Linked DNA regions of Homo sapiens: region 2 is linked to region 1. The links come from fine-mapping of genetic effects on gene expression. A gene starts in region 1. The other region holds a variant in brackets. All regions are shown on one strand. Distances are from middle to middle.

Region 1 (15,474 bases):
GGCTGTCCTACCTCAGAGTCTTTCCTTTTGCCACCTAAGCCTGGATAGAGAGATGCCTAGTTCCACCTGCAGCTGCTCTCCACTTTTTTAGAGTTGTTGGAAGAAAAGTAGGGATGGCCAAATCAGAAACAAACACATTTATCCTCAGTTACTAACAACTCCTGAATGTGCATTTGAAACAGGAATAACCACCATGGCCTGCCTAATGGTATCACAGGCAGGCAGGCAGGACCAGAAATCACCTGGCCGCATGCTCTCTAAGCCCTGGGACCACCCTGTCAGCCAGGTGGTCTGGTTGGAAGTGTGTAGGTCAATCCTAGGAGGATGTGTGGACAATAGACGGTGAGCAAAGGTTTCTGGGTAAGTTAGTGGCACCAGCGTTTGAGAAAGGCCATATGGAAGAGGTGAATTGGTAAGGGAGGGGGTGGAGGGAGAACAATGGGGCCTCAGATGAGAACCCAGGTTGGCATGGAGAGCCCAGTCATGGGGCCCCTGCAGCGGCCCACTGAGGCCATCAGAGGCTCTCTGCCTGTTGAGTAAGGCAACTTCCTGCCTGTTTTGACCTGGACCAATTACCCTAACAGCAGTTAATTAAAAAGCCACTGAAATTATTAAATCACTGAAAGGAGGCCAGGAAAGGTACACAGTTGCCCTTTATAGACATCAGTAGATGATCTGAGTTCCAGACTTACAGGCAACAGGGCCTGGCCTGGGTTGCCGGAACCTGCCAAGGATAGGGGGCACAGCGTCTGGGTGTAAGACCTACTCATCCACCTACCTGCTGGGGACTCCAGATAAATCTCTGAGCCTCTCTCTGAGCCTCTGTTCTAACCTTTGTGGACAGCAGTATAAAAGTATATAAATCCATTTGACTGTTCAATTCTACTTCAAAGAATTGACAATAAGGAAAAAATCATGTATTCATATATTCATTCATATACGGGGATGTTCAATACAATGGTGTGTACAATTCTGGCAAACAGAAAAGCACACCAAATATTATATGCCCAGATATAAGAATGTGAGTTAATGAATTATGACACAGCCATAAACAGAATATATGCAGCTTCTCAAATCAGTATCCTTGATAGGATATACCATTAATGAAGGGAAAAAAGGGATGACAAAGCAATATGCTCGAAATAATTCTATTTTGTTATATATATATATATACACACACACACAATATTTAGAAAAAAGTCTGTAAGGATATACGCAAAAATGTTAGTTATGGGTGGCAGAATTATCTTAGTGTTTTTGTGCATTTTCCAAATTTTTTACAATCAACACAGATCTTTATTGTGGGGGAAAAGTGGTTGTGGTGAAGAAAGCAACCAACTCCTCAGCAGGGGCTAGGAGAAGAGCTCCAACCTCTGCTTTGTATGTTCTCACAATGAAACCAAAACAGTAAGAGATGTCCCATGTTTTCATACAATGTACAAAAGCAGGAAGTACCTATTTGTAAACATTTTGGCATTTTTGTAGATTTCCCTGAAAAAAATGGTCAAATTGTTATAGACTTGGCAGCCACAGAGTCTCTGCTTATCTGCAAAGAGCCTCAGCTTCCAACTCTAAAGCCTGCACTATTCAATCAGAGGGCAATGAATGCATCTTTTGACCTTGTTGCTGCCTTCCTGAATGCTGTTGGGGTGGCTGAATCTCAAAGCCAGCCTGGAGTCTGTCTTATCAGTAACTGCTGGTAATTAAGCAAGCCATGTCAATAGTTTCACACACAACACAGAAGGCAGTAAATGGGAGGATCCCACTTCCCTTCTGAGAAGACCCTGTGGGACTGTAACACGGAACCTACCACTACCACCAGCCAGTCTCCAAGCTATCACCTACCCTTCTTCTGGGAAGAATGATGAGCTTTGTGTGTCCAAGGTATCAGGTAGGTGTAGGACCTCCTCACCCACCCACCTGCTGAGGACTCGAGGTAAGTCTCTGAGCCTCTCTAAGCCTCTGGTGTAACCTTTGTGGACAGCAGTATAAAATAAAAATATATAAATACATTCGACTGTTCAATTCTGACCTAATCTTCTTCTGGGAAGAATGATGAGCTTTGTGTGTCCAAGGCTCCTTATTAGAAAGTCTAGAGGAACTAGTTTGCATAGGGATTATCTTGGTAGGATTTTCAGATCAAAATCAGTTTCCACAAATAAAAGTCAGAATCTCAATTAGACAGCTCTGGACTATTTTGTTACAGAGACCCACAAATATAGGATATATGCTTTCTTTCCTTCAAGGGAGTCATTGAAAGGCAGCCACATACAAAATAAAAGACAGTTCCCTGGCATCCCTCCATTTATTCATTAACAAAACCCTACTGGGTATCTATTGTATGGGAAGCAATATGGTAGGTGCCAGGGCTGCCATACTGTTGGATACATTCCCTGCCCTCACAGGGCTTCCAGTCAGGTATCAATCAAATAACTGCACAATTTACATGAGGCGAAGTGCTCCAGAAGCAAAGTACAGCTTTATGGGGCCCTGGAAGAATGCATGATAGGTACATTTTACCTGGATAAAGGGATCAGGATAGATTTCCCTAATGGAGTAAGAATTCAAGCTGAGACCAGAAGAAAAGTAGGAATTGGACAGGAAAATGGTTAGGAGTGAGGAGGGGGTAAGGGTAGGGAAGGAGGGACAGTGAGCAATTAATCATTCCAAGAAGAGGGACACAACATAAACAAGAGCCCTCAATTGGAAAGGAGCTTGGCTAAAACTGAGAAATAACTTTTCTTCATTGAACAAAGAGTTTCGTGTGGTGAGCTAGTCCAACAGCCTGACCTGCCCCACAAAAGGAGGGAAAGAGAAAGAGAGAGAGAGAGAGAGATGGTAGACAGATGATAGGTAGGTAGATAGATGATAGATAGATAGATAGATAGATAGATAGATAGATAGATAGATAGATAGATAGATAAAAATGAATGGATTGCTGGATCTGGAAAAGATGCAGAAATAATCTCCCTATGACCTTGTGTCTTAGTGAATCTCAATAAAGACAGACAATAAAGCAGTAAATGCAAGCATTGTTTGGGAACTATGGTACTTGGACCAAAAGCTCTATGTTCTGTGAACTAACTTACCCCAAGGAAAGCATTTAGAGAACCTGGTAAATGGCTGGCCAACATCCCTCTTTGTTTCCTTCTCCAGCCCAGATCTCTGGGAGCATGTGTCCCACTGCCTCCATGACAGTTCCACTTGCTTGTCGCACAAGCAGCTCAACTCAGCTGTCCAATACTGAAGCCTGGAGCACACCCCACAGGCCCCCTGCCTCTCACTAACTTCCTGTCACCTCCAACCACCCAGGTGTTGGACAGAAAGCTGGGAATCGTCCTTGACTCTTCCCCTAACTCCTTACAATGAAGTCATGATGATTCTGCCCCAAGCAGGACATGTCGTGCCCAAGGGATGGACAGGGAAGTAACTGGTGCCCCTGGAGTTGTTCAGCATGGCATCCCTGCCCCCAGTATAACTCAAATCCACCTCCCTCTCTCTCATTCTCTACTGACAGCCCCTGACCTAAGTTAGCACCATCTAACTGGAGTCTTACTTTTCCTCCCGCTTCAGTCCAATTGGCTCTCCACACAGCAGCCAGAAGCAGCATTTAAAAGTGCAGGTCAGATCATGCCCCTTGCTCAAACCCCCTTCAGTAGATTTCCAGCGCTTTTTAAAAATGAAGTCTCAGTCCCTAACCCAAAAGTGGTCCCCCGTGAGCTGGCCTCTACCGCAGCTCCAGCTTCTCACACCGCTTTCACCCTTGCTCCCTGTTCTCCAGCTCTTCCCAACTCAGGGCCTTTGAAGGGGCTCTTCCTTGTGCCTGGAATGCTCTTCCTCACATTTCTCATCATTCCTTGGAGCTTGACTCAAGGGTCAACTCCTCAGAGAGGCTTTCACTGACTTCAAATGGCCTTTGCTAATCCTCTAATTTAGGTCCCTTGGTTATTTTATCTCAGGGGATCATTTCTTCATAACATTTACACTTTTCATAACTAACCCAATTGTGTTACTCTTTTGTGACTATTTGTCTTGCTAGCAAGCAGCATGATGGTAGGAGTTATACCTAATTTGCTCACCACAGTGATCCCAGAACCAAGATCAGTCCCCGGCACATAGTAGTTACTCAGTAAGTATTAGCCCCTAGCAGCTTCATTCGTCATAATTGCCAAAACTTAGAAGCAACCCAGATGTCCTTCAGTAGGTGAATGAATAAATAAACTGTGGTACATCCAGACAATGGAATATTCTTCGGCACCAAAACAAATGAGCTATCAAGCCACTGAAAGATACAGAGAAAATGTAAATGCATATTATTAAGTGAAAAATGCCAGTTTGAAAAGGCTACGTAATGCATGAATCCAATTACATGACTTTCTGGAAAAGGCAAAACTATGGAGACAGTAAAAACATCAGTGGATGCCAAGAATTCGGAAGTGGGAGGAATGAATAGGTGGAGCATGGAGAATTTTTAGGGCAGTGAAAATACTCTGCATGATATTATAACGGTAGATATAAGTCATATACATTTGTCCAACCCATAGAACGTCTACCAACCATCAAGAGTGAATCCTAATGTGAACTATGGACTTTGGGTGATAATGATGTGTCATTGTAGGTTCATCAATTGTAACACATGTACTACTCTGCTGGGGAATGTTGATCATGGGGGAGGTTGTGCATGTGTGGGGGCAGGGGATATATGAGGAATCTCTGTGCCTTCCTTTCAATTTTGCTGTGAACCTAAAACTGCCCTAAAAAAGGAGCCTTTAAAAATTAACTTTTTAAAATTCATTAATTAATTAAAATAAATATATACTGAAGGAATAAATAAATCTCTTTTTTCAGGTATCACTTCTTCCTTTTTTTCTTTCTTTTGATGAAAGCCAAAATGCCATCAGCTCATTTTTTTCTTATAAGTCCATAAAAGAATGATGTGTCCTGCAACTGATGGGCTCGTAGATTCAATGAAGGACAGGATATAGAGAAATTGGGCTCAACTGTATGTCCAGCTGGTTTGGCTGTTCCAGCCCTACTCAAGGCAGGACAGCTTGCAAGCATAGCGCACACGTCTCAAAGGCTCAAAACCTACCCACATTCTTGGGTGTCCTGCTGAGTCCCCAAGAGCACTGAGGAAGCAACCACTTGACAGTATTCCATATTTTCACAAATCTTGTCTGCCTCACACGCCAGCCATCAGCGCAAAATGACCATTCCTAAATTCTCTATAAGTCAAAATCTCTGTCTTCAAAAGGCCCACGTTCAGAAGTTACCTCCCATAAGACTTCCTCTGGCTCCCCATGATGATATGAACATGCCTAGTCAACGTTCATTTCATTCCACCTGGTGTTATTAAGTTAGTCTACCTATGCCTCCCCTAGTAGACTTAGAACCCCCTGAGGTCAAGAAATATTCTCCCTCATCTCCACATTGCTCTATTCCCTGCAGACAGCTTGGCATATCAAAGATATCCAATCAGTTCAACAAGCTGATTCAAATGTCCCTCCATCTAAGGCAATTTGTCCAGAGAATCTTCCTGCACTATACAATTAATTCCAAATTGAAATGCCAAAGACCAGAAACCTGGAAGTGGGGAAAAAATCCAATAATTGATTTCAGAAAAAAAAGTGGAATTCCAAATCTCTTAAAACATAATTTTGAAATCCTTTAAAACATATGAGCCTTATTAATTACTCTGCAAATACTCATCTCAGAGAATGTCCACATAATGCTTAATTCCTAATGATTACTGGTCTGAATTTGTAGCTGATTCCCTCATGCTTAAATTACAAAAGATTAAGATGGAACAATGACATTGGGGAAACAATCTCCTTCTTAATTGTGCCATTTCAGCTGCAAATACCCTTTTATGTATATAACTAATTCAAATCTTCACTATTTCCTATACATCAGAAACACTTAAATGTCATTCAAAAAGGCAGCAAAACAACACACACACACACACACACAGACACACAAAACGGAAGATTCTATGACTTCACTCTCTAGTCTAAAGGATATATGTCATTCCTGGCCAGAGAGAAAAGAGAAAATCAGCCAATACAACAGTTTCAGTGACCAACGTAAGGACTGTAAATGACCCAGAAGGAGGAGGCACCAGGGGCCACAGGATATGAGGAATATAACCAGGACTGTCATAGCAGAAGTCATGAGGAGAATATCTGGGAGCCCAATCCTTTCTTCTCCTCTCCCAGAGTAGCTGGTAGAATCCTAACCTAAAACCCCAACAGGGGACCTTGAAGGAGCAGATTCCAAATTTGGACCTGTATTATATCCACAGAGTAACATGAGTAACATGAGCGTGAAGACCCCAACATCACCGGTCACCAACAAGACCCTAGAGAATCCCCACTACACATCACAGAAGAGTGTCATTGTAAATGGTTCTGCTGTTGTGAAGTGGTCAGCTGGGAAAAAAGGAACAAGTGGGGGCGTGGGGAGGTGACTGGCTGTGGCCTTTGTACCCTGGACACGAACTAGCAGCAGAAATAAATCCTGGTGCTTCCCCATCCATTTGGTTCTGTTTACCAAGCTCTTATTCTTTGCAAAGCAACCATATCTGGGGAAAGGAGGCAGGAAGAAAAAGGAATTCAAAGAAGTCTCACAAGCCCATGTGAGGTAGGCTCTGGGTGACAAGCTTGGGTACCATGGCTCTTTTTGTTGTAAATTGCCCATAGAATCTGAACTCTCTCTCTTTGGCTCAAACCCTGAGCCATGTCCCTTAAAATTAAACCCTTTCTCCCAAAGAAAAAGATGGAGATTCACATGGGGCAATAATAACACATCCCCACGGATCATCCTCAGGGGACCAGTAAAAGAAATGATGGTAAAAGGAAAGGTGATCACCTCAAGGAATTTTCCCTTGAGAAATTATCACCATGCTGAAGATCTCTGGTATAGCTGTCAACAGAGAAAAGCATCTGTCAAGCTGGCCAGGTGTTGACTAGCAACGCCAACAATACCCTATGCTTGTACCATTCAAGTCTCCCGCAGTCCAAGGCACAGGCACAGGCTTTCCTGTGCTTCACACCACGGGGCCAGGGGCAGTTACTCCATCTTTAGATCTTTAGTCCATGTAGCTCATGGAGCAATGTAATGGACAAAAAAGTTTTAAACAATGATGTCCTGGCATAGAAATTATGTAAATCACCAGGGATTTTATTCCTGTTCCCAGTGTATATTGGACTAAAATGTTTTCATTTAACATCTTTTGCTTTTTCTAATTTCATAACATTTACATCTATCAATTTTCCATTGATTTTGAAGTAGTTGAATGGGTTGAAATTGCAGCTTCAGTCACAGGCAAACTGGCACAGATTTGTTTTCAGACCAGCCACGTTCCTCCTCAGTGTTCTGGACAGAGGCCTCCTTGTCTGTTCTTCCAAGAGTCCCTATTTCTGCTGATGGAACTGCCTTCCTTGGAATTACACAGGCTCTTCACCTTGGTGTCTCCATGGACACCTCCCCTTTGTCTCTCCTTGGCCTCCTCCTTTACTCTTACTCCAAATCTAATCAGTGCCAAATCTGGAACTCTTCTACCCGCCCAGTGGTGCATTCCTTCCTCTCTGGTCCAGCCATGGCCACCAATTCTGGCCTCCCCAGCACCTGCCTCATTTCATGCTGGCCTCCCTGTCTCAAGTCTTGTTCCCTCCTTAGAATGTTTCCTAGACATAGCTGACAAATCAGTCTTCCAGAAAAAGTGATCATGCGATTTCCTTGTTCAATACCATTGAGGTCTCTCTCTCTCTCTCTCTGTCTCTCTCTCTCTTTTCTATTTTATTTTATTTTTCTGGTTCTTAGGAAGTGTGCAGAGGACTCTCCCTTAATGTGGAGAGAGAAAGTCCATACTCCTCAGTCTGTCCTTTAAAGCCTGGTCACATCCAAACAACTCAGTGTTAAATCCCACTGCTGCCTCTTATATCCCCAGTGCACCAACTACTCACTGACCTCTGCACTTGCTTAGAGCAAGTCCACTGTTACTTACGCCTGCAATGCCCCTCTGCTACTGGCTCTGTATATTCAAACATTCCCGTTTTCAAGGTTCAGCCGAAATGTCCAATCTCCAGAAGCCTTCCCTGGCCGCCTTAGATGAAAGGGATCTTTCATTCCTAATTCTATGATGAGAGACACTTTTCTTTGCTAGGCATTGCTGTTCCTCCCCCGACCCTCCCTATCTCCAACACATGACCTCCCTCTGCTGGGAATTTCCTGGGGGCCGCCCTCTGTGACTCTCCCTGCATCTTCCACAGGGACCCAGCAACCTGCCGTGCCCACAGCAGCCTCTGCACAACACCCAAAAGTTTGTACTAGCTTAGATGTTCACGTTTCTCTTCTCCCACACCCTGCTCATCAGGTAGGGAACTTTCCCAGTGAAAACGGAACTTCCCTACTACAATACCAAAACAAGTCAATGTTGCCACTTGATCAAGAACTCTTCCATTTTTGAAATATTTCCTAATGAGCTCAGTTGTCACAGACTGCACCCTGGGGACAGGTCAGACCAGAAAGCAGAGGATGTCACCTGGGCAGGACCAGGGCTGCTCCACGCTGGTGACCACAGGCTGGGTGTTTTGTGCCCCCGGAGGGTTAGGACACACAGCAGCCAGTCGCAAAGGGCGCAAAGGACCAGCGCTTAGTGGGCGGGGCGGGCAGGGGAGAGTCCCGGGAGTTGTACCCTGTTGAATCCCAGCTCCAAACTTTTCCCTCCGTCAGCGCGGAGCCCTCCACCAGCCAGGACTGGCTGACGCCGTGATGCCACAAAAGCCGGGACCGGAAGAGAAAAATGCGTGGGATGGGGAAGGCAAAGGCGGTTATTTTCAGAACTTCGGGGGCTCCCGGGCCTGCCCTTCGGGTTCCCGAGGATGCGAGGCCAGCGTCCGGCCGCCCGCGGGTCCGGACCGGCGCCTGCCCGGGACCGGATGGGCAGCGATTGGGATGCAGATGCCGCTCTGGTGCTGATGCTGCGGCTGCCGCGTAGTGACAGCCGCTCCACCACCCACCGCGCCGAGCTGCGGCTCCGCGCCCCCGGGGGCGCCCGGCGCGCCTGGTCCGCTCCGGCCCCGGGCAAGGCCTGCGGGCTGCGGCGGGCGGCGGGGCCCAGGCCGCTACTCACCCGGAGGGTTGACCGCCGCCGGGGTTGCCATCTTGCTCGGAGAGGATAGGCGCCCGCTTGGCAGGGGCGCGGGAGGGGCGGCGCGGAGCCCGGCGCTCAGCCCCGGGGACCCGGTCAGGCCCAGGCGCCGCCGCCGCCACACAAAGGACGGCGCGGGCGGGCGGCGCTCCCTCCGCTCTCCCCGCCGCCGCGGCCGCTCGCCGTCCCCGCCTTTCTCTCCTCCTCCTCCCCCTCCTCGGCCTCCTCCTCCCGGTTCAGCCTTTGTCGCGCGGCGGGGGGCGCCCGGCCCGCGGCTCCCCGGTCAGAGCGGTAGCACCGCGAGACTTGGGGCTGCGGACGGCGGGACCCCCAAGTTGGGCGCCGGCGACTGGCGGGGGCAGAGGGCCGGGCGCTCCCTCGGGCTCGCGCAGGTGCTCGGGCCTGGCCGGGCTGGGACCGCAGGCGCCTCTCCCGCGCTCGCCTAGCCCGGGCTGCCCCCGCACGCCCACGCCCCAGGTGTCCGGGCGCGCTTTACCCAGGGGCGCCGTGCCCAGGCCAGGAGGCCAGGGCGGAGCGGGTGAGGGAGAAGCCCATTTAGATTCAGAGGGAAGCCGGTCCTGGGAGACGGCCGCGAGGAACAAAGGCGCCCCAGTGCTGCCCACTTAGCATGCCAGAGCCGCGCTGCTCGGCTCCCAGGCCGGGGACACGGCCCGGTGTTAAGCGGAGGGTGCCCGACCGCGGGAATTCCTAAGGCCACGCGCACCTCCAAGGCCACCGCCGCACACAGCTTCGGAGTGCACAGTGCACACGCCCAGGCACAGGCAGCCGGCCCGAGAAATTGTGAATGTCTTGGCTTTGAGTAAGGCGCTCATCTCTACCCTCCTTCCATAATGACTGCCGTTGATTATTACTTGAGGGCGCTGCAAGGGCCTTATTTACACCACCAAGTTGAGAATTTAAAAAGATTTTTTTTTTTAAATAGGTTTATCTGCGTATCCTGGCGAAGTTTGGATGCAGAGAACTTGGAGCTGTTGTTTTCTACCAGACACTAGGATCCCTGAGAGAGGTAATGGCCCCTAGGAAGGACACGTCACCATCGGGGTCCCCTGTAAAGGTTAAATGGAAGAATAAAGACATCCCAGGTGAACGCTGAGAAGGGCAAGTTGGTCCCTAAACGCAGATAATGTTTGCAGAGACATCAAACTGTCTTAAATCCTTCCAAGGAAGCATTTTCTGGAGGGCAGAAAATTTGGGATGTATGTTCAAATAAGCATTTTCTTCGGGGAGTATTTGTCACTACTAATCTAATAGTCTATCAGTTCTACAAATGTTGAATGTCTGCTGTGTGCCAGGCACAAAGCCAGGTGTTGGGCCTACCATGGAAAGGAAGAAACAGGAGCTCTGTTCTTCTGGTTTGGGGGGTAGAGTGGGGAAGAGTGAAACAAAGTATCTGCACTCAAGAAGCACACAGCTCCCTTGGGGGCTTAGGGCAGAAGCCCTGAAATTGGCATCTCCAGCCTGTAGTCACTAATGAATGAATGAGGGCAGAGAGGAGGTGGAGTGATCAGGGAAAATGAAAATTAGGCTTTGAAGACATGAGTAGGACAGGTGGAAAAAGAAGACATTTCAAGTAAAAAATAAAGCAGGTGTGCACCCAGCCACAAGATAGGCCAGGCCCAGACAGAGAAACCAGGGTATCAGCTATGGCCCGCTCTTGTGCCCCGTATCAAAGTTGACTGTTCCTGATTCCAACATCAAGCCAAATGAGAATTCAGCCTCTCTTCTACATACCCCGAAAAGCAACACACTCAAAATACCAACTTAATTAATGTATAACGTATACTGGACTGAAGATTTCTTAAGGAAAGTAAAAGAGGAGGCTCTCTTCACTCACTCCACATCAAAAAAGGTAAAACTCCATCTCAGATATTTCTGCTACCCAGAGTCCCTTCTGGATCCTTCTCCCCACAGGCAGTTCAATCTCTGGTGGCCCATAAATAGCCCATAAATAGCACTTGGCATCACTGCCCCCTATCCCACGAGGCTCTTTTATTCTCCAACTTTCCACACCCCTTAGAAGGAAGCAAGTTCCTCTCCTTGGTGTTTATGTATCAGTTTAGCATTTCAGCCAGGACCCATGGCTCATTTTGTCTCCAAATACAGTTCTAATATCATCCCTAAAAAATAAAATATGAGTGAACATGACTCTTACGCACACACACATTTAACCATACAAATTTGTTGACAAGTTTTACTTTCTTACTCTGCTGTTGTGTTCTGCCCATTTTTCTAAATGTTACTCGGCTGATATCTTTAAAACTGGATCTTGCTCAAGCTTCCTACTTCTTGCACTGGTCCATTGCAATAAAAGACAGGCGACACGTGGACAACTGCTAGACACTTCCCAAGTCTGGAGTCGGCCGTGCTGTGGTTTTTGGTACGTAATAAATACGTTTAGATTTTCACAAAGGAGACATTTCATCTTCTCCCCCAGTCAGTGTATTTCAGAGGTAGAAAGGACCTTCGACATCATCCAATTCTGCCCCTGGAGTTTGCAGATAAGGAAACTGAGGCTCAGGGTAGCCAACGTCATGCAGCTTAATAGCCAGACAAGACTTAGAACTGGGCTACGCACAATACTGGGATTTGGTGGCTGGAGTTGGGGAGCGGTTAGGGTGTAGGGGAAGAAATAGAGAAATGGGCAACTCGCCTTCTCTCTCGTCTCTCAGTATTAAATAGGTTAAATGCTCAGAAACACTGATTGTGGATGAAAGCCCCCCACTTAAGTAAACAATCTGAAATGGAGTGGTTAGTCATTGTTGAATACTGAGTGGCATTTACACAACACAGTGGTCTTGCGCTAATTATGAGAGTCAGTAGACTGTGACCAGTTAACACAGGCTCAGGAATTCCACTCAACCTTTAAACAACCCAGAACTCTTTGAAATTCCAGAGGAGGCTGTTGAATTTGAAGCTGAGATTTGCATTTTTGAAAAGATTAATGCAGATCCACCGGGCCCATAGCACACGATTCTGAGCACAGCGCTCCTAGAAATGACCAGAGTTGACCAGCTGCTGTGCTAATGTGTACCAGGGTCCACAGCCTTTCTTTCTTTCTTCTTTTTTTTTTTTTTTAACTTGATGGGAGAAAGCAGCCACCTGAGTTCTGCTTCATATCCCTTTAAGTCCTAATACTCGAGACAAAGGATTTCCATTGTATAATATATAATGATCCAAGGCAATTTTATCTTTTTTTTTTTTTTGAGACGGAGTTTCACTCTTGTTGCCCAGGCTGGAGTGCAATGGTGCAATCCTGGCTCCCCACAACCTCTGCCTCCCAGGTTCAAGCAATTCTCCTTCCTCAGCCTCCTGAGTAGCTGGATTACAGACATGCACCACCATATCCAGCTAATTTTGTATTTTTAGTAGAGACGGGGTTTCTCCATGTTGGTCAGGCTGGTCTCAAACTCCTGACCTCAGGTGATCCATCTGCCTTGGCCTCCCAAAGTGCTGGGATTACAGGCGTGAGCCACTGCACCCGGTTTTTTGTTTATTTGTTTTTGTTTTTTGTTTTGTTTTTTTTTTTTTAGATGGAGTCTCGCTTTGTCACCAGGCTAGAGTGCAATGGAGTGATCTCAGCTCACTGCAACCTCCAACTCCCTGGTTCAACCAATTCTCCTGCCTCAGCCTCCCAAGTAGCTGGGATTACAGGTGCACCCCCCACCAAACACTCCCAGCTAATTTTTGTATTTTTAGTAGAGATGGGATTTCACCATGTTGGCCAGGATGGTCTTGATCTTCTGACCTCGTGATCCGCCCACCTCGGCCTCCCAAAATGCTGGGATTACAGGCGTGAGCCACCATGCCTGGCTAATTTTATGTTCTTTTAACTTCACTTTAAGATATGAAGAAACCAGGAATGAACGCATGGGCTTCTGCAGAAGGAGAGGCATGGTAGGGCTGCCATGGATATAACCACAGGCTTTCTCTCCATTTATATGTCTCCTCTCAACCCTTCCTTCCTCCTCCATTCTTTCTAACTTCTCTCTCTCTCTTTGCTGGAGATAAAGGCTCATGGGTCTGTGTTATCCCCACTGCTACCTCCTTATCTTTATTTCTACACAGGTGACAACTGCCCACGGATTGTCTGTCCAGGCACTACCCCCAGCCCCCACCCCTGCCTTCTTCTCTATCAAGTCTCTCCTTTACACCAAGAATCATGGACTTATAACAGATCAAATGTGGATGAGATGTTAGTTTTATACAAAAAGGCATAAGCACCAGCCTTTGAAGCGAAAGTGTGGTGTAGGTTTTTGCTCTGTCACTTCATGAAACTTCTCTAAGTCTCACTTTCCTCACCTGGAAAATGGGGATGATGTTACCTACTGTGCTGAGTTTTGGTGAAGATGACATTGAAGGAAGTAATGTGTGTGCTGTATACACTTTAGAGACTTTAAAATGTATTGTGATAGTATTGCAGAGGGAAGAAGAAAAGTATGGCAAGTCTCTGTCCCACAGAGATAGGAAGGGGAAGCTTGTCGTGCTTTACCTTCATGGAGAGTGGAGAGAAGGAAGGAAGGAGGGTGGGAGGGGAAACAGGCAGTCAGACCCAGGTGCTCTAGTTTCCGTGGAAGGTATATCAAGGCAGCTGATGGAATAGCCAAAAGCAGAGGGGTTTCTGGCCACCACCCATGTGGGAGTCTTGGGGAAGATAACACACAGGGTGGTTCTGCAGGGATCGAAGGATGTAGCTGCAAAGCTGGGCTTTATATGGCACTCCTGGCTCCTCGTGGCTCTGTGAAGTATGCTAGGTGTCCCACAGGTGAGGAGACATGAAGGCATTGAGGGTCTAAATTAACAGATATCTGGGTGAGGACTAAAAGGCTATAGTAGGCAAGATTGAATGAACAAGGCCCCAAACCAAGGCCACAGATATCAGCTCTCAGTGTGAGTCTTCCTAAAGATACCTTAATTTTCACCAGCCAAATGACCATCCCAGCCCCTCAGAATGGAGGCGGGCAAGGCTCTAAGGCTCCCTTTTCTCCCACCACTCCCTCCTTGACCACCTAGACACCACCTTGAAGGGGAGCTGGAAGTGAAAGGGAAAGGACCTAAGAATGACTGTGCATTCACCTGGGTGATGCTGAGCTTTCTAAGAGATGGTGTAAAACAAAGAAATACTATGAGCTCTCAAGGTTAAAATTCATTTAGTTCAAATGAGTATGGTATGAGTAAATTTCTCACCCTGCTACAGGGATAAAAAGAGACAATCTAAAGTGAAAAATATAACAGATGGAAACATATCCATGGTGAGAATGTACCATCCATGAACTCTTAGGAATCAAGACCGAGTAACATAGTACTAAACTGTACACAACAAAAACTACCAGGAATTTAAGGAGAAGCTGACAAAAATCACCTTACCAGTAGAGACTTTAACCAAGATTTTCTAGTTATTGGCAGATGAGATCAACAACAATGAAGGACAAATGTAAAATATGTTGATTTGAGGTTGATTTACTCTTGGCCTGTTGGATAACTCTGCCCCACTTACCATCTCCCTACTCCTCCCCGAGCATGGACCCAAAGCACCCGGCCCCAGGAGGAAGGCATGGGGCAATGACTGAGTGGGTTTGGAAACAATGATGGGACCACGATGTTACAGGCATAATCTTGCGTTCTGGCTGTGTCTTGTCTCTTGGGAGTTGTTCTCTTGCAAACAGAACCCTGTGTCCTGAGGCCTGAGCTTCTTTGTGTGTTGAAGAACAGCACATGCTTGTGCTGGTGCTTTTGCTGTGTTCTCTGGCTGTCTCAGGGGCTAGCAGCATGTGGGCTGGCCTTTTCTACCGCACAGGGCTGTGACAGCATTGCACTTTAGATTCTAAACTGCTCTCGGAGCATGGACTTGGAAGCCGGACAGTCCCCTGTTCGAATCTCAGCAACTCTACTTACCTGCTCAGTGTGAGTTGGACGCCCTGTGCCTCCATTTCCTCATCCACGATCTAGCGATATTAATAGTACGATCTTACAGGGTTCTTGTGAGAATTCAATGAGTTAATGTTTGTAGAAAGCTTAGAACATTATCTGGTATGTGGTTGGTATAGAATATTTGTTGATATTATTATCAAAGGGGTGAGGTAAGTTCAGCCTCCCATCCCTGAAATGAGATGGGACAAATTTAATTAAAATGAAAAAGCAACTGACAATTTGGAAAATAGTATAATGATGACTGTCTGTATCAAAAGCTAGCTGCAGAGAAAAATTCACAGCTGCAAATACTTGTTTATTAAATAGAAATGAATGGAAATATGTGAAATTAGCATTTAGCTCAGAAATCTCAGGGTCAATAAGTGTTTTGTACC
Region 2 (15,474 bases), 30 kb after region 1:
GTGCTCCCTCAGGATAATTGTTCAATGAATGAATGAATCAATAAATAGATGGGTGTGTAGATGTTGCAAACTTCGCCGTGGTACATGGTGTTGAATAATACATAGGAATCACTAAGGTCCGGAACAAGTCTTTTTTTTTAATTTTTAATTTTTATAAGTACATATTAAGTGTATATATTTATGCGGTACATGAAATATTTTGATACAGGCATACAATGTGTAATAATCACATCAGGGTAAATGGAGTATCCTCACCTCAAGCATTTATTCTTACTTTGTGTTACAAATAATCCAATTATACTCGTTTAGTTATTTTTAAATTTACAATAAATCCTTGTTTTCACCCTGTGTGCTAGCAAATACTAGGTCTTATTCATTCTTTCTAACTATTTTGGACCCATTAACCATTCCCACTTTCTTCCAACCCCCTGCTCCACCCTTCCTAGCCTCCGGTAACCGTTGTTCTACTCTCTATCTCCATGAGTTCCATTGTTTTATTTATTTATTTATTTATTTATTTATTTATTTATTTATTTATTGAGACAGAGCCTCACTCTGTCACCCAGGCTGGAGTGCAGTGGCACAATCTCAGCTCACTGCAACCTCCGCCTCCTGGGTTCAAGCAATTCTCCTGCCTCAGCCTCTCGAGTACCTGGGATTACAGGCACCTGCCACTACGCCCAGCTAATTTTTTTGTATTTTTAGTAGAGATGGAGTTTCATCATGTTGGCCAGGTTGGTTTTGGACTCCTGACTTCAAGTGATCCACCCGCCTTGGCCTCCCAAAGTGCTAGGATTACAGGTATGAGCCACCACATCAGGCCCAATTGTTTTATTTTTAGCTCCCATAAATAAGTGAGAATATGTGAAATTTGTCTTTCTGTGACTGGCTTATTTCACTTGACATAATGATCTCAAGTTCCGTCCATGTTGTTGCAAATGACAGAATATCGTTCTTTTTTATGGCTGAGTAGTACTCCATTGTGTATATGTACCATATTTTCTTTATCCATTAATGTATTGATGGACACTTAGGTTGCTTACAAATCTTGGCTATTGTGAGTAGTGCTGCAATAAACATAAGAGTGCAGATATCTCTTCAGTATACTGATTTCCTTTCCTTTGGGCTTACACCCAGCAGTGGGATTGCTAGATCATATATATGGTAGCTATATCTTCAATTTTTGGAGGAAGCTTCAAACTGTTCTCCATAATGGTTGTATTAATTTACATTTCCACCAATAGTGGATGATGATTCCCTTTTCTCCACATCCTCACCAGCATTTGCTGTTGCCTGTCTTTTGAATAAAAGCCATCTTAACTGGGGTGAGACAATATCTCATTATAGTTTTGATTTGCATTTCTCTGGTGATCAATGGTGTTGAACACCTTTCCATATACATACCTACCGTTTGTATGTCTTCTTTTGAAAAATGCCTTTTTAGATCTTTTGCTCATTTTAAAATTGGATTATTACATTTTTTCCTGTAGAGTTTTTTGAACTCCCTATACATTCTGTTATTGATACCCAGGTGGGTAGTTTGCAAATATTTTCTTTCATTCTGTGGGTTGTCTCTTCACTTTATTGATTGTTTTCTTTGCTGTGCAGAAGCTTTTTAACTTGGTGTGATCCCATTTGTCCATTTTTGTTTTGGTTGCCTGTGCTTGTGGGGTATTATTCAAGAAATCTTTGCCCAGTCCAATGTCCTGGAGAGTTTTCACAATGTTTTCTTATAGTAGTTTCACAGTTTGAGATCTTAGATTTAAGTCTGTAAGCCATTTTGATTTGATTTTTGTATACAGTGAGAGGTAGGGGTTTGGTTTAGTTCCTCTGCACATGGATATCCAGTTTTCCCAGCACCATTTGTTGAAGAGACTGTCCTTTCCCCAATGTATGTTCTTGGCACTGTTGTTGGAAATGAGTTCACAGTAGATGTATGAATTTGTTCCTGGATTCTCTATTCTATTCCACTGGGTCTGTGTGTCTGTTTTTATCCAGCACAGGTCTTAATCAGCTCCTCCCCAACCTGGGATCATAAAGCCTGCCAATCCTTTGCATAATTCAAGACTTCATCCTGAACCATTTGCTGGGCCATCTTGCACCCACCTCCCACCATCTTTCCAATCCTCTTTACTGTGACACAGTGATACATTTTTAAATTTTTGTCTTAGTTCACAAATTGGACCCAACTATCATTACCACAACCTCGCCCGATGATTCTCGAAATCAGGCAAGCATCAGTATTGCTTGTGGGGCTTGTTAAAACACAGATTTCTTGGCCTTACTCCAAGAGTTCCTGATTCAGCAGGCCTGGAGAGGAGCCTGAGAATCTGCATTTCTCACAAGTTCCCAGGTGATGTTGCTGCTGGTGGTCTGGAGACCCCACTTTGAGAACTCTAGTCTAGGCTGTGATCACTACTCTTTTACAGGGAGTCCCCACCCAGGGGCTGTGGGTGGCATATCGCAGTTTCCTCTCTGATGCTCTTGGGCACAGCCCCTTCAGAGCACAAGGAGGAGAGAAGGGGTGGGGCTAGGCTGTCCAGTTCACCTCTCAAGTTGGATCTCTTAGATCGTTGGGATTTTAAGCCACTGGAGCCTAGGAGTTTGGCAGCCAGTGGTGTGCTGGTAAATTTTAACAACTGGCCATTGAGAGCTTCAAGAGGTGGGTGGGCACCCGGATTTGTAGCATTTATCAATTTCTGTAGTATGAATACGACATAGCCAATTTCCAGCAACCAACCTAATGTCAAGTGGCTCACAAAAATCCTGAAAATGTAACAATGGGCTCTCATGAGCCAGTACTAATATGAATAGATTCTAGCACACCACTGCTTGGCCACCAGCCTGCTAGATTTCTTACATTCTTCCTACTAGCCCTGTTCTCCTGGATAGCTCCTTCTCCCTTTCATTCTTTGTCCCTCTGTTACAGATTTCTTGAAATTGCCTGGCTCAGAAACTTCGCCATTCTGTTCTGCGCCATCACATCTGCCCCCTGTCCCACTGCCCTACAGAGAGTCCTTCCTTCAGGTTTTATTGCTTGGTCTGGCCTGGGCCAGACCTTCTTGGCCTCAGCTTGCTGGCTGCTTCTTTGTACAGTCGTTGCTCTGCTCTGATTCCTCCACAGTCTTGATGGCTTCCCTGCTTTTCCTCCCCTGATCAGCCCCCCTTCATGGGCACACATCCTTCCAACATGTGAGAGAAGTTGGCATGGTAAAAAATGAGTAAAATCAGAATGAACTCTTTCCATATTTTATTCAGGAATGGCATTTCACAGGTTCTCTCTCTTACTGATTCCAGATCCAAAGGGAGATATCGATCCATGGAAGATGGTTGCTCTCGGAAAATGCTGAGAAGTTTGCAAAAGGAATGGAAGCAGAGTTAACCAATGTATCAGGAAGCTTACACTTTCTCCTTTTAAACTGCTGTGCTGGTCTATTAAGACATGCCTAATACCCAAAGCTGAGGGGCAAAAGGGGAGAGAATGAAGTTTATGCGTCTGTGTCATAGAGAAAAGCTGCCAAAATGTGATTAAGCTTTTTGAGTTAGAACTTAACAAAATGCCTTTGCTACTGGTTTCCATGGTTGTCCAGTGAAAAGAGTGAATACATTTATAGGAAACACAAAAGGTGGTTTCAGAGCTTGGGCAGGATGGAAGACGTATTTCTTCTACTATTCGCTCCTGTGAGTTTAGTGCCACAGACCTGCTCAGGCATCTGGGAGATGCCGGTGGGAGATGCCAGGGCTGAGCAGGTTTGAATTTCTTCCTAAACAGGGAATAAAGACCTTGAGGAAGGAATATAGATATTGAGGAAGACCCAGCTCCTCACTAATGAGCTTACCTGCTTTTCTTGGGACAGCTTGCCTTAAAGTAGACAGTGCTGTCATGGGCTTCTGGATCTTAGAAAATGCTTCTCATTCTAGGGGATTTTGGCCATGGAGACCATCGCACAGCTCTTCTCCCTTCTCCTCTTGGCTGCCATCCCAGTAAACAGGTCCTTCCCAGAACCCACAGAGGAGAAAGGCGTTGGAGAGGTGGTAAAGATCGTTGGCGGGCTAGGTGGCAATGTTAAGTCCTGAAAAACGCTGTGCGTTGGGGAGTTTCTTAGAACACTTGTGTTACTACAAAGGAATACTTGAGGCTGGGTAATTTATAAAGAAAGAGGTTACTTTGGCTTGCAGTTCTGCAGCCTGTACAAGAAGCAAGGCACCTGCATTTGCTTCTGGTGATGGCTTCAGGCTGCTTCCACTCATGGTGGAAGAGGAAGGGGCACCAGTATGTGCAAATCACAACAAGGTGAGAGAGAAGGCAGGTGGGGAGATGCCAGGCTCCCTTTTAACAATCAGCTCTCATGGGCACTAGTAGAGTGAAAACTCACTTATTGCTATGAGGATGGCACTGAGCCATTCATGAGGGGGTCCACCCTCATGGCCCTAACACCTCCCTTCAGGCCTCACCTCCAACATATGAGTCCTATCTGTGCCCTTACTTTTTTGGAGTCAGCATCTAAAATAGTCACTGCTTTGCTCCAACTGGTGTCTCCAGTAACTTGATGGGGACAACCTTCATCTTCTTCCACCTGCTCCATTCATGAACCATGTCTCCTTGTCCTGAAAGGACCAAAGGGTTTCAATTTTCTTAAGCTGTGCCTCAGTTTCCTCATCTATAAAATGAGCATAATAGGAGTACGTACCTTAGTTTAAGAGGACTAAGTAGTTTATATGTGACCACATATTAACTGAACTCATTTCATATCTCCAACCACCTACACAACATCTTTATGTCTAACAGAATCTTAAGTTTATTGTGGCAGTATGGAAACCTTGATTCTCCACTTCCCAAACCTGCTCTTCCCTGATGGTTCCTCTTACTGGTTAGTGGCACTGTTGTTCACCCAGCTACTCTGGCCAAAACCTTTGCCTCCTCTCTTTTGCTCACACCCCACATCCAATCCCACAGGAGACTGGACCTCTTCTCGCCTCTCCTATCACAACCCTAGTCCAAGCCAGTAGCCGGTCACCTGGATTGTGCACTGGACATTTCCACTCTCCCTGCGCCCACCCTTAATCCCTTTACTGCTGCCAGAGGGACACTTTGAAATTACTAGCCAGCCCATGAGCCTCTACTTCCAATCTTCTAATGGTCTCCCACATTTACAGTAGAATCCACTGTCCTTACCAAGGCCAAAACATCCCACCTATCTGGCCCCTGGCTGCCTCTCCAGCCTCATCTCCCTCTTCTCTCACCATTGCTTTTTCTGCCTTAGCCACGCTGGCCTGACTGCCTCCAGCTCAGGGGACACCTTGCTGTCTCCACAACCTTGTGCTCCCTGAGCTGGATATCATTCTCCTGATATCTGCGTACTTCACCCATCTCACTTCTGGTACATCTCTCACCCCCTGGATACCTCACCTTAAAATAGTACCACTGGACCCCCTCTGCCATGTTACACTGCTTTAGTTTTCTCATACTTGCTTATTACTCCTGAAACAGCAATTTGTAAATTGTCTCTAGCACCAGACTGTAAGGGCGGTAAGGACAGGGGCTTTGAGTGTCTTGTTCTCTGCTCTGTCTTCAACTCCTAGATGTGTCTCTAACGTGCAGTAGGTCCTTAGTAAATATTTATAGAATGCATGAATGAACCAGTAAGTATAGTGCCTGGCACATGATTAAGTGTTGAAGAAGTGTTAGTAATTATTATGGGCATTACTCACACTGCCAAACTACTTCGTGAATTTTCCCAGGGGTAGGGAACTCCTCATCTTCATATTTTAAACAGAACATCACTTTATTGAGCTAGTACCATAATGGGAACTTTAACAACCATTACTTCATTTCATCCACACATCAGCCTTATGAATAAGTGTTACTGTTCCCACTTTGCACATGAGAAAAAGAAGGATCAAAATGTCAAATGACCACCAACTACTCCATTCAGGATCACTTATACGGTTTGGCTCTGTGTCCCCACCACAGTCTCATCTCAAATTGTAATCCCCAGGTGTCTTGGGAGGGACCTGATGGGAGATGATTGGATCATGGGGGCAGTTTTCCCCCATACTGTTCTCGTGATAGTGAGGGAGTTCTTGTGAGATCTAATGGTTTAAAAGTGGCAGTTTCTCCTGCGCTGTCCTTCTCCTGTCGCCTTGTGAATAAGGTGCCTTGCTTCACCTTCTGCCATGATTGTAAGTTTCCTGAGGCCCTCTAGCCATGCAGAACTGTGAGCCAATTACACCTCTTTTGTTTATAAATTACCCAGTCTCAGGTAGTATCTTTATAGCAGTATGAGAACGGACTAATATATTCACAAAGCTGGAGGAGGGAGTGCTGTGAGTTAAACCCATCAGTCCCAAATCCGTTTCTCTTTCAACCACTCCCAGCATTGGTTCCGGGAACCCCAGGCATGGAGCTCTCCTTCCTCAAGATGCCCATAGCACCTGCTTTTCGTATTTGATGAATCTTGCCTTGCACTGTCATCAGGGGTCTCTCCCTCCGCTCCATGAGTTCCTTGAGAGCCGAGACCAAATCTTACTCCCAGAGCACAGGGCTGGGAATACAGCAGGAGCTCAGAAACATCTTGACTTGGGCTAGTGTGAGGAGTGGGAGAAAAAAGGGGAGGATTGTGTGTGCATGTAAGAGTGGGTCCTTTGCCTCTTAAAAAAGTATCTACTGCAGCTTGTGCTGAATATGAGTGTTTGGAATCCTCAGTATGATCAGGGAGGGCACTCAGAGAGAAGAGCTGGAATGATCTATGTGAGGGTTCCCCATTCAGTGTCATCTGGAGCAAATAGTCTTCCCCAGAGTTTACAAGTATATGCAAGCCCAGGGGACACAAGAAGCCAAGGTAGCCAAAGTTCACCTACCTGCTATGACAGCCCCCTGGGATGAGTCTTCTCCTCATTTAATAAAATAAATTAGGAGGGCTGGATATGCCCTAAAATAATGGTTCCATAACTGCAAAGAAGCTGACTGTAACTCTGCCACCTGTTAGGAACAGGATGTCACTGTCACTGAAACAGAAGACTGAAAATTAGCCCATGCTATATATAAATTAGGAGGGTGGCGGGGGGG[C/GC]GGGGAACTGGGAACATCTTGTTTTGACATTCAGCAATATTTTCAAGGCTCTCTAAAGAAACTTGGAAGAAAAGAATGTAAAAGAGTCCAGGACCTAAAGGGAAATAAGGACCTGATTTTCAATCACATTTTGACCTGAAAATGAAATCAAGGCCTATATTGTGATGACTTGAGTAGCTTGCTGTCCTACAGCTGCACAATTGAAGTGGTTTCATTGCTGTGAGTACCTTCTGCCACTCACTAGATTCTGGAATTAATCCTCTGCCAGGCTAAAAGCAGAAACAGCTACGGATCTAACACTTCCTAGGAAGAAGTATTTAGCAGAAGCAGTGGTGTTCAATGTGGAGGCATTTTAACACAGGGTTCCGGAAGGTTCATTTGCATCCTGCACTGACCCAGCACAGGGTCTGTAGTGGTCACAGTGGTTGAATTCCCACCATCTATTCCTTACCAAATAATCAGACTAAGCCAGTGGTTCTTCATGAGAGGCTATTCCCCTCCCCTACTAAGGTGACATTGGCAATATCTAGCAACGTTTTTAGTTGTCATATCTGGGGAGGTGCTACTGGCATCTCATGGGTAGAAGCCAGGGATGATGTTTAACATCCTACAATGCACAGGAAAGCACTTCAACAAAGACTTACCTGCCCCAAAACGTTAAGAGTGCCGATGTTGAGAAAACTTGGTGGTCTATGGGGTTTGATTTGCCAATGCCTGCTTTAAGAATGAGTGTAAGACTTCATCCCAGCAAACAGTCTTGAAGCAAAGTCTGTTGGAAGCTATTTGAGAAAGGTTCTCTCATTCTTAAGAAGAACCAGAAGAAACTGTCTCTTTTCTTTTGGCTGTTGCAGTGTTTGAATATGACTTCTGGACCTGTTGTAGCCACTTTGAGTCCCTGAAGGGAATAATTTTGAGAGCAATCCAGCCATATCCAGTAAAGCCGTAGGTGTGCATAACTTGCGACCAGCAATTCAGCCCATAGACATATGCCCTGGAGAAGTCTTTACACAAGTGCACCAGAAGACAAGTACACAAGTGTTCCTGGCAACATTGTAATACTGAAAACTCACCAATATTTGTTTGTGAATAGGCAAATGGATAATTAAATTGTTACATAACTATTAAAAATAAATATTTAGGGCCGGGCGCGGTGGCTCACGCCTGTAATCCCAGCACTTTGGGCGGCCGAGGCAGGTGGATTGCGAGGTCAGGAGATGAGACCATCCTGGCTAACACGGTGAAACTCCGTCTCTACTAAAAATACAAAAAATTAGCCGGGCGTGGTGGCGGGCACCTGTAGTACCAGCTACTCAGGAGGCTGAGGCAGGAGAAAGGCATGAACCCAGGAGGTGGAGCGTGCAGTGAGCCGAGATTGGGCCACTGCACTCCAGCCTGGGCGACAGAGCGAGACTCCGTCTCAAAAATAAAAATTAAAATTAAAAATAAATAAATAAATAGCAGTGACAGTAAATAAATTATGCCTGTGGATGCATGTCACAAATATAAAGTTGAGTGAAAAGTACAAATTGAATTTTTCTCCCCCGGGCACGTCTTTGCTGCAAAGGCCCTGGTGGCCGAGACCAAGGCTGGCTGTTTACGTGAGGCCAGCCTTGCAGGTGGGGCAGAGAGGAGGAAATTTTGTTGTAAGAACTGGGACAAAGTTGGCTTCTGGAACTCCCAAAGAAAATATTTTTCTGGCAAGGGGAATGCAAGGCAAGGCTTCTCTGATGTGTAACTGATAGCCTCAGAAGGTGTAAGGTTAAATAATGATCTCATCAGTATAACAGGAGCTGGACAGTATTAATCAGTGGTCCAATTCAAAATAAAGCCACACTGCTATAAGCAAAGTAATGAAGGCTTATTGTGACCTGGGGCTCCTTAATGACACAGATTTGATTCCCACTTAATGGGCAACTGAATAATGCAGCTGATAGCACAGACCAGTGGGGAAGGCAGACCAGAGGGGTACAGGAGGCTGCCTGGGATGAGGCATCTAAAGGCTGTTATCACATGTCACATCATCAGACCTTGAATTTGCTATTAAACAGCAAATAAGCAAATATGCCACTTACAGAAGACCTTTCCAAACTTCAAGGCATCTACTAAAATTATATTTATCTCTCTTTGATATACCAATCACGCAACTCTAAACTATTTATGCAGAAACTAATCTACATATTAAATTGTGCCAATAAATGTTGTCTTCTCTGTTTACATAAAATGAATTGCAAGTCATTCCCATATGGTTCCTTAAATCTGTGGCCTAAATATATTTTTTTTAATTTCAGAGAAACTTTTATATCTTGTGATCTTTATTCTCAGATATGTAATTTTTTTTCTCACTGCTTATTTTCCTAATGTAAATTTCTCAGTTATTATAGTGGGGAATTTTTTTTAATTGGATAACCTTTGGGAGCATGATGAGGATAGAAAAATGATTGAGTATTGTACACATTATCATTAAATGGATAAACTTCTAAAATCAGGATTGTGCATGCTGAAAATAAGTTTAAAATATTGCAAATTTAAGTATCTTTTGTCAGAACATGAGAAAGTTGAGGGAAAAATAGTGGAAAGTTCCTAAAAGGGAAACAAAAAAAACAGCTTACACTATTAGTGATGACTATTTTCTTTCTGTTACGATATCTGAATCTTTAATACCAGTAGAAATTAGGTTCCAAACTAAAATTGTTCATTATAATTGCTCAGCATCAAGTAATTTTTATGTTGGATAAAGACACAACTCAATTGCTCTCTCTGATATCAATGTGGGGAACAATCCACTATGTTTCTCATTTGGTGTTAATATTGTGGCCTCAGATTTCCTCTCATAATTGCTTCAATAATTACAATCTATACATAAAAACTGAAACTCATTATTTATGAGCTTGTAGTTCTGTTGTATGTGTACAAGAGCTATTCAAAGAATAGTTGAAAAGGAAAACTATGAATAAAATATTATTCTCATGAATTTTTGCTGTGTAGCTTTCAAAGAATGTTCTATGCTTAAGCATGCATAGGGGAATTTTTGTTTTATTGGATTATTTTGGAAACTATATCAGTTTAATATTTTAATATCCCTGCCTATTTTTCTTTGAAAAGGAACCATTTCTGCTTGATAAAATTATTTGCATTTTTTAAATGTTTATCCTTTCAATTTAAGTATGTCAGATCCTTTCCTGCTTGCTTTAAATCATTCTGAAAATATTCTTATTTTATTTGCATGTTATTAAATATGGGTTCTGGTGGGATGTTTGTTTTTTAAAAAAGAAATTGCAGAAATATATAAAAAATTACACCATTTATATAAAGTTTAAAAATATTCAAAATATTATATATTATTTATATAATACATACATATATGATTTTAATATAAAGTACTGCATGGATAAATTAACACCCAGTACAGATAAATCCATGAACAGTGACATAAGTATAATTTTGAGATTTTCAATAGACTTATATTTCAGAATCAGACATATTTCCTAGATGAAAGTTATAAAGGATATGGATAAATAGAAGATGACCAACAGGTTTGTTTTAATTGACATATAAAGGAACCTTATATCCTTTAAATAAGGCAGATTAAGAAAGTGATATTGGGCCGGGCGCGGTGGCTCATGCCTGTAATCCCAGCATTTTGGGAGGACGAGGCAGGCGGATCACCTGAGGTTGGGAGTTCGAGACCACCCTGACCAACATGGAGAAACCCCCATCTCTGCTAAAAATACAAAATTAGCCGGGCGTGGTGGCAGTTGCCTGTAATCCCAGCTACTTGGGAGGCTGAGGCAGGAGAATGGCTTGAACCCGGGAGGCGGAGCTTGCAGTGGGCCGAGATCGCGCCATTGCACTCCAGCCTGGGCAACAACAGCGAAACTCCGTCTCAAAAAAAAAAAAAAAAGAAAGAAAAAGAAAGTGATATTATAGTCTCCAGACCTAAAATTACAAAAATTATTTCTAAGTACTTCTCAAACATTTATTAAGCATGTTTGATGTACAATTTCATGAACAAGAGAGGCCGCAAAATATACTTTGTTGGTGCATGTCACTGAGTAGTTTCTATAACACATGTGCTACCACATCCAGATTCCAAAATAGCCCCTTTTAGGAAACACATCTACTGCGTCCAGGACTTGCTTTCAAAAGAGAGCATGAAACATATCTCAATCAATGCTAATTTTCAGAACACAGAATTCAGTCAGTTTCTCCCAGAGTTGCAGTTCCCAGTGCAGCCTCTGCTCACTCCCAGGAATGCCAGGCCCTTTCTCTGCAACCCAGCTCAGCCTGGACTCACCCCTTCTGAGCCTCAGAAACATGCAGAGTCCTCTCTCAGTTGGACACCTCTTCCCCTCTTCCAGGCAGGTGACATTCACTACCAGTGTGAGAAATAGAAATGTGGTGCCAGGTAGATGAACTTACCAGCTCCTTAGCCTACTCCGACCTCCCCTTTGTCCCAAAGGGCTTCTGTCTGCCATTTCAGGGATTCATGCCCAGAGTCTCAGAAGATTCCTATAGCCTCGCATTTGATGATGCAGCTGTGGTACCCTTTCTCAACCATCCTTTAAAGTGAGCGTAGTAATCCCATCCCTGCTTTTGAAATCTGGGGCATCTCCATCACTTCCAAGAGTCCAACAAGCATCATCTCTCTCTTGCAACCTCTAGGAATATCTGGGTTCTCTTGTTGGTCTTAAGATCTTAGAACCACAAAGACAGACAATCCACTCGTGCATATTTCAATGTCAATAGCTGGAAACGAAAATAAATAAATACATAAATAAAATAAAATAAAATAAAAACAGATGCTATGTTTTAACCATTCCCATCGTAGATTGACCCAGAGGGTGTATATTCCTTAGAACATAAAATTATTTTGTAATCAGATGTATTTAGCAGACATTCCAAGCACTTTCATTGCCATGGAGGTCCCCAGGCCCAGAAAGTCCAGAGGAACCAGAGGTGCCCTCAGCTCAGCCTCTGCATGAGATAGTATACATTTGCTGATCTTTCCATACTGTTCTCCTTTCTATGATATGCTGAGCTCAGCCCTGGCACATCCTTTTGGCTCAACTCCCCTTCAGTTGCCCCTTTTGCCTTAGAGATAAAGAAGCCATCGCAATTTAAATTAGTAATAACTTTCACCACCATTCTTTCCCCTCATCCCCATCCCCCACAAGTGGAGAGCTCACTGTCCCAGGGACTAATAGAGCCTAGGCACCAGAGAGAAAAATAGTATCTGACTTGTATGATTTAGGCCACTATTTGCATTTTGACAACGTTTGCATTTTACCAATAATCCTTAAGACTATTTTTATTTCTTAAAGATTAAAGTCATGTGAACTAAAAAAATATTTAAGTGCTTATTTTTCATTAAGCCGATCAATTAGAGCTCTTTTTATAGGCATTACACACAACATATATATATAGCAATATAGACAGAAGATTCAGCACTTGTAAGGTTTTTCATTTGCCAGTTTCTTAATTAGATCACTGCCTTCAGGATGGAACCCTTGGAGGAACAGGGTCACGATAGCACCCATTTTTAGGGCCTAATAAGCAGACACAGCTGAAGGCAAAGACAGATCCCAAAATTAAAGATGCCATTTTTTACTGGATTCTGGATCCCCAAAAGGAGAGAGATACTATAGGAGTCCCAAAGGCAGGTCAGTGCTTCTACCATGCGTTTCATTGTAAGGCAACCCAAAGCCAAATCAGCCCATTCTGCAATTAGCCCATCCCCCATGGGAGTCTCATCTCTTAAATGGGGGGTGGGGATGTTTCCATATCTTCCAGGTGGCCAAGAGCATGTTTCTCTGATTCAAATGTGCAAAGAGTTAAGTATCCCTCCATAACTACTATTAGCCATCCCTTAAAGTATATTTCCTACCTAGTTACTACACGCCAAAGCTCTTTCATAATGTTAAGTATTTTGATACCTCCAAAACTCAAAACTGTCACATAATAAAATGCAAAACAGAACACAACCTTTTTGATTTTGAGAGGAAACTGTTTGCTTTTGATTCCTCGGGTTTCATGAGGAAAACAGAGGGTTTTTTTCCCAAAACGGGGTCTGTGGCACCTCCTCTGCTTTTCCCAAGGAATCACAGGCTACCAGAAGTTACCTTAGGGCCTCTCATGTGTGCTTTAAGAGTGACAAGACAGGCCGGGCATGGTGGCTCACGCCTGTAATTCCAGCACTTTGGGAGGCCAAGGTGGGTGGATCATGAGGTCAGGAGATCAAGACCATCCTGGCCAATATGGTGAAACCCCGTCTCTACTAAAAATACAAAATAATTAGCTGAGCATAGTGGCACATGCCTGCAATCCCAGCTACTCAGGAGGCTGAGGCAGGAGAATTGCTTGAACCTGGGAGGCAGAGGTTTCAGTAAGCCCAGATCACGCCACTGCACTCCAGCCTGGGTGACAGAGCTAGACTCTGTCTCAAAAAAAAAAAAAAATGGAGAAAAAATAATTCAGTGGACTGAAAAGAAAAAAATCCTTTTTTCAGAAAAACAAAATCCAAGTAGAGAAAAAAACATAAAGACCTTTTCAGTATACCTATGATTTGGATATCCACTTTTAATTAAGCTGAGTGGTCTTTAAGAAAATTCTTTTACTTCCCTTTTTACTGGATTTTAGCCATGCCAAGCAGTTAAGATTTTTGGCTTTTGAACTTTACAGAAAGTAATCTCACAGGTGAAACCAACAAGTCTTAACTAAGTTATGACTTAGCCACGAGTGTACAAGGTATTTTTAAAAGGGTGATAAGCAGCTTTTAAAACTGTCATTGCAAAATTGTGACTGAGAAAGTGAAAGAGATCCAACCCAAACAACTCCATTTTGTTTCCAGCCCCCAAGCGGTCCTTGCCCATCCCTGGGTGTAGGGCAAACCAACTCTGGGAAGAGCCTGGTTACAGTTTGTAGCCTAAAACAAAGATGATAACAGCCCTTTTCTAAAATTTACTTCCAACTTGCCAGGAGACAAGACCAAGAAACTAACCACAAGATTAGATACCATGGCTTAGGAATCACAAAGCTGGAGGCTACAAGATTTTGACCTTTCCTAAAGTGCTCTCAAGATCAGTGCTTAAGATATTTTGTAAATCCTGCCCTTCATGGATCAACCGGCACCACCCAGATCAATAAACTGGCTTATCTGATTTTGTGGCCCCCACCCAAGAACTGACTTAGTAAAAGAAGACAGCCACCACCGTAAAATGGCAGAGACTGGAACAAAGTATTGCCATGCAGTTACAAGTCATGTTCCCAAGAACATGAGAGAAGATGGAGGCCTGCAGCCAAGTTTGTTACTGACCATTTTGTTGGGATGGCTTGAACAGTAGGTTTATAGGGTCCTGGGTCTGCATGTTTACCTAAGGTACCCTTTGTCTTGACAGAACCATACAGAAAGACACAAAAAGCACATCAGATTGGCTACAGCTTAAAACAAACCTCACAAATCCCTTTTCATTAATTAAAACTTTACAGATAATATGAACAACAATCCTTATTATTCCTTTTACCAGTTTGCAAAGGGAGAGGGAAGCCAAAAGCCCAACTGGTAAGAAATTTTTACACTTTTGCCAGCGTGTCAGCCTTCTGGGTTCCCTTCCCCCTAGCTTAACTCTAAGCCAAGCATTTTAAGGTTTGGAAAATTAACTGTTCCCAGGTTGGAAGAAAATTATAAAAGAAGATACAGGAGCCATTTCAAACCATGAAAGAAGGAAAAACACCATGGAAAAGTCTGGGGGTTCCAGTTAGGGTTGTCAAGAGGTAATGCCTCTCTTCCTATTGGAAATGGAGCTTCCCCTGTTTCTTTGCCTTTCTTATTTTCTCTTTTCCTTTTTGGCCTATGATAGGAGACATATTGCTCATCTCTGAAATTCTCTGCTGCCTGCAGAGCTGCCTGTTTTTCAGCTGCAGTTAGGGTTTGACTTAGTAGCAGCATAACATCCCTTCATGAGAGATCAAACACCTGAGTAAAATTTTGCAAAGCTTCTCTATAGCTATCAGGGTCATCAGAAAGTTGGCCTAAGTCTTTTTTGTTTGCCTAAGGTCCTGCAATGAGAAAGGACCTTGAAGGGGCCCCAAATAAGGGGGATCCTCAGATGGTTCCCCTGGAAGTTGCTTCTCTACTTTTGGGGAATTATTCCCTTTGGGCCTGCCTGATATGATTGCTGAAAGAACTGAGTGGGTTTTGTAATGCTTGCATAAGGTCTGGTAAGAAGGCCATGCCCTTGTGCAAAAGAAAATAAGCTGCTTTTTTTTAAAGTCTCAGGGTGAAAGGAGTCCCACTGCTTCAGCATGCACTCCAGGGGAGTGCAGGCTGAAGATGGTACCCATCTAGAAAGAGAAGCAAGAAAAAGGCTTCCCTTTAGTCTCCTTCCTTTCCGTGTGACCTAGGGTGG

Direction of the effects. Alleles are on the strand shown, and positions count from the first base shown. SD is a standard deviation of normalised expression in the study named.
For the expression in esophagus muscle of the gene that starts at base 9,298 in region 1, allele GC in region 2 goes with a lower level than allele C (moderate effect, 0.70 SD a copy in GTEx).

The links. PIP is the estimated chance that this variant, and not a neighbour inherited with it, causes the effect.
Region 2: its variant is fine-mapped to the expression of ARNT2 in esophagus muscle (GTEx, PIP 0.95).

What each region holds. Positions count from the first base shown.
Region 1 is chr15:80,398,206-80,413,679 of GRCh38, reverse strand. It overlaps ARNT2 (aryl hydrocarbon receptor nuclear translocator 2), which reads right to left and starts at 9,298. Exons shown (of 19, transcript NM_014862.4): 1 at 9,134-9,298. The coding sequence starts at 9,164. It overlaps ARNT2-DT (ARNT2 divergent transcript), which reads left to right and starts at 9,484. Exons shown (of 6, transcript NR_184070.1): 1 at 9,484-9,689; 2 at 10,095-10,178. RefSeq lists an enhancer at 9,367-9,867.
Region 2 is chr15:80,367,977-80,383,450 of GRCh38, reverse strand. The region is part of intron 3 of ARNT2-DT (ARNT2 divergent transcript); the gene reads left to right. Among named protein-coding and RNA genes, the nearest start is that of ARNT2-DT, 28 kb to the left of the region's middle. The variant C/GC (reference allele first, on the strand shown) is at 7,070.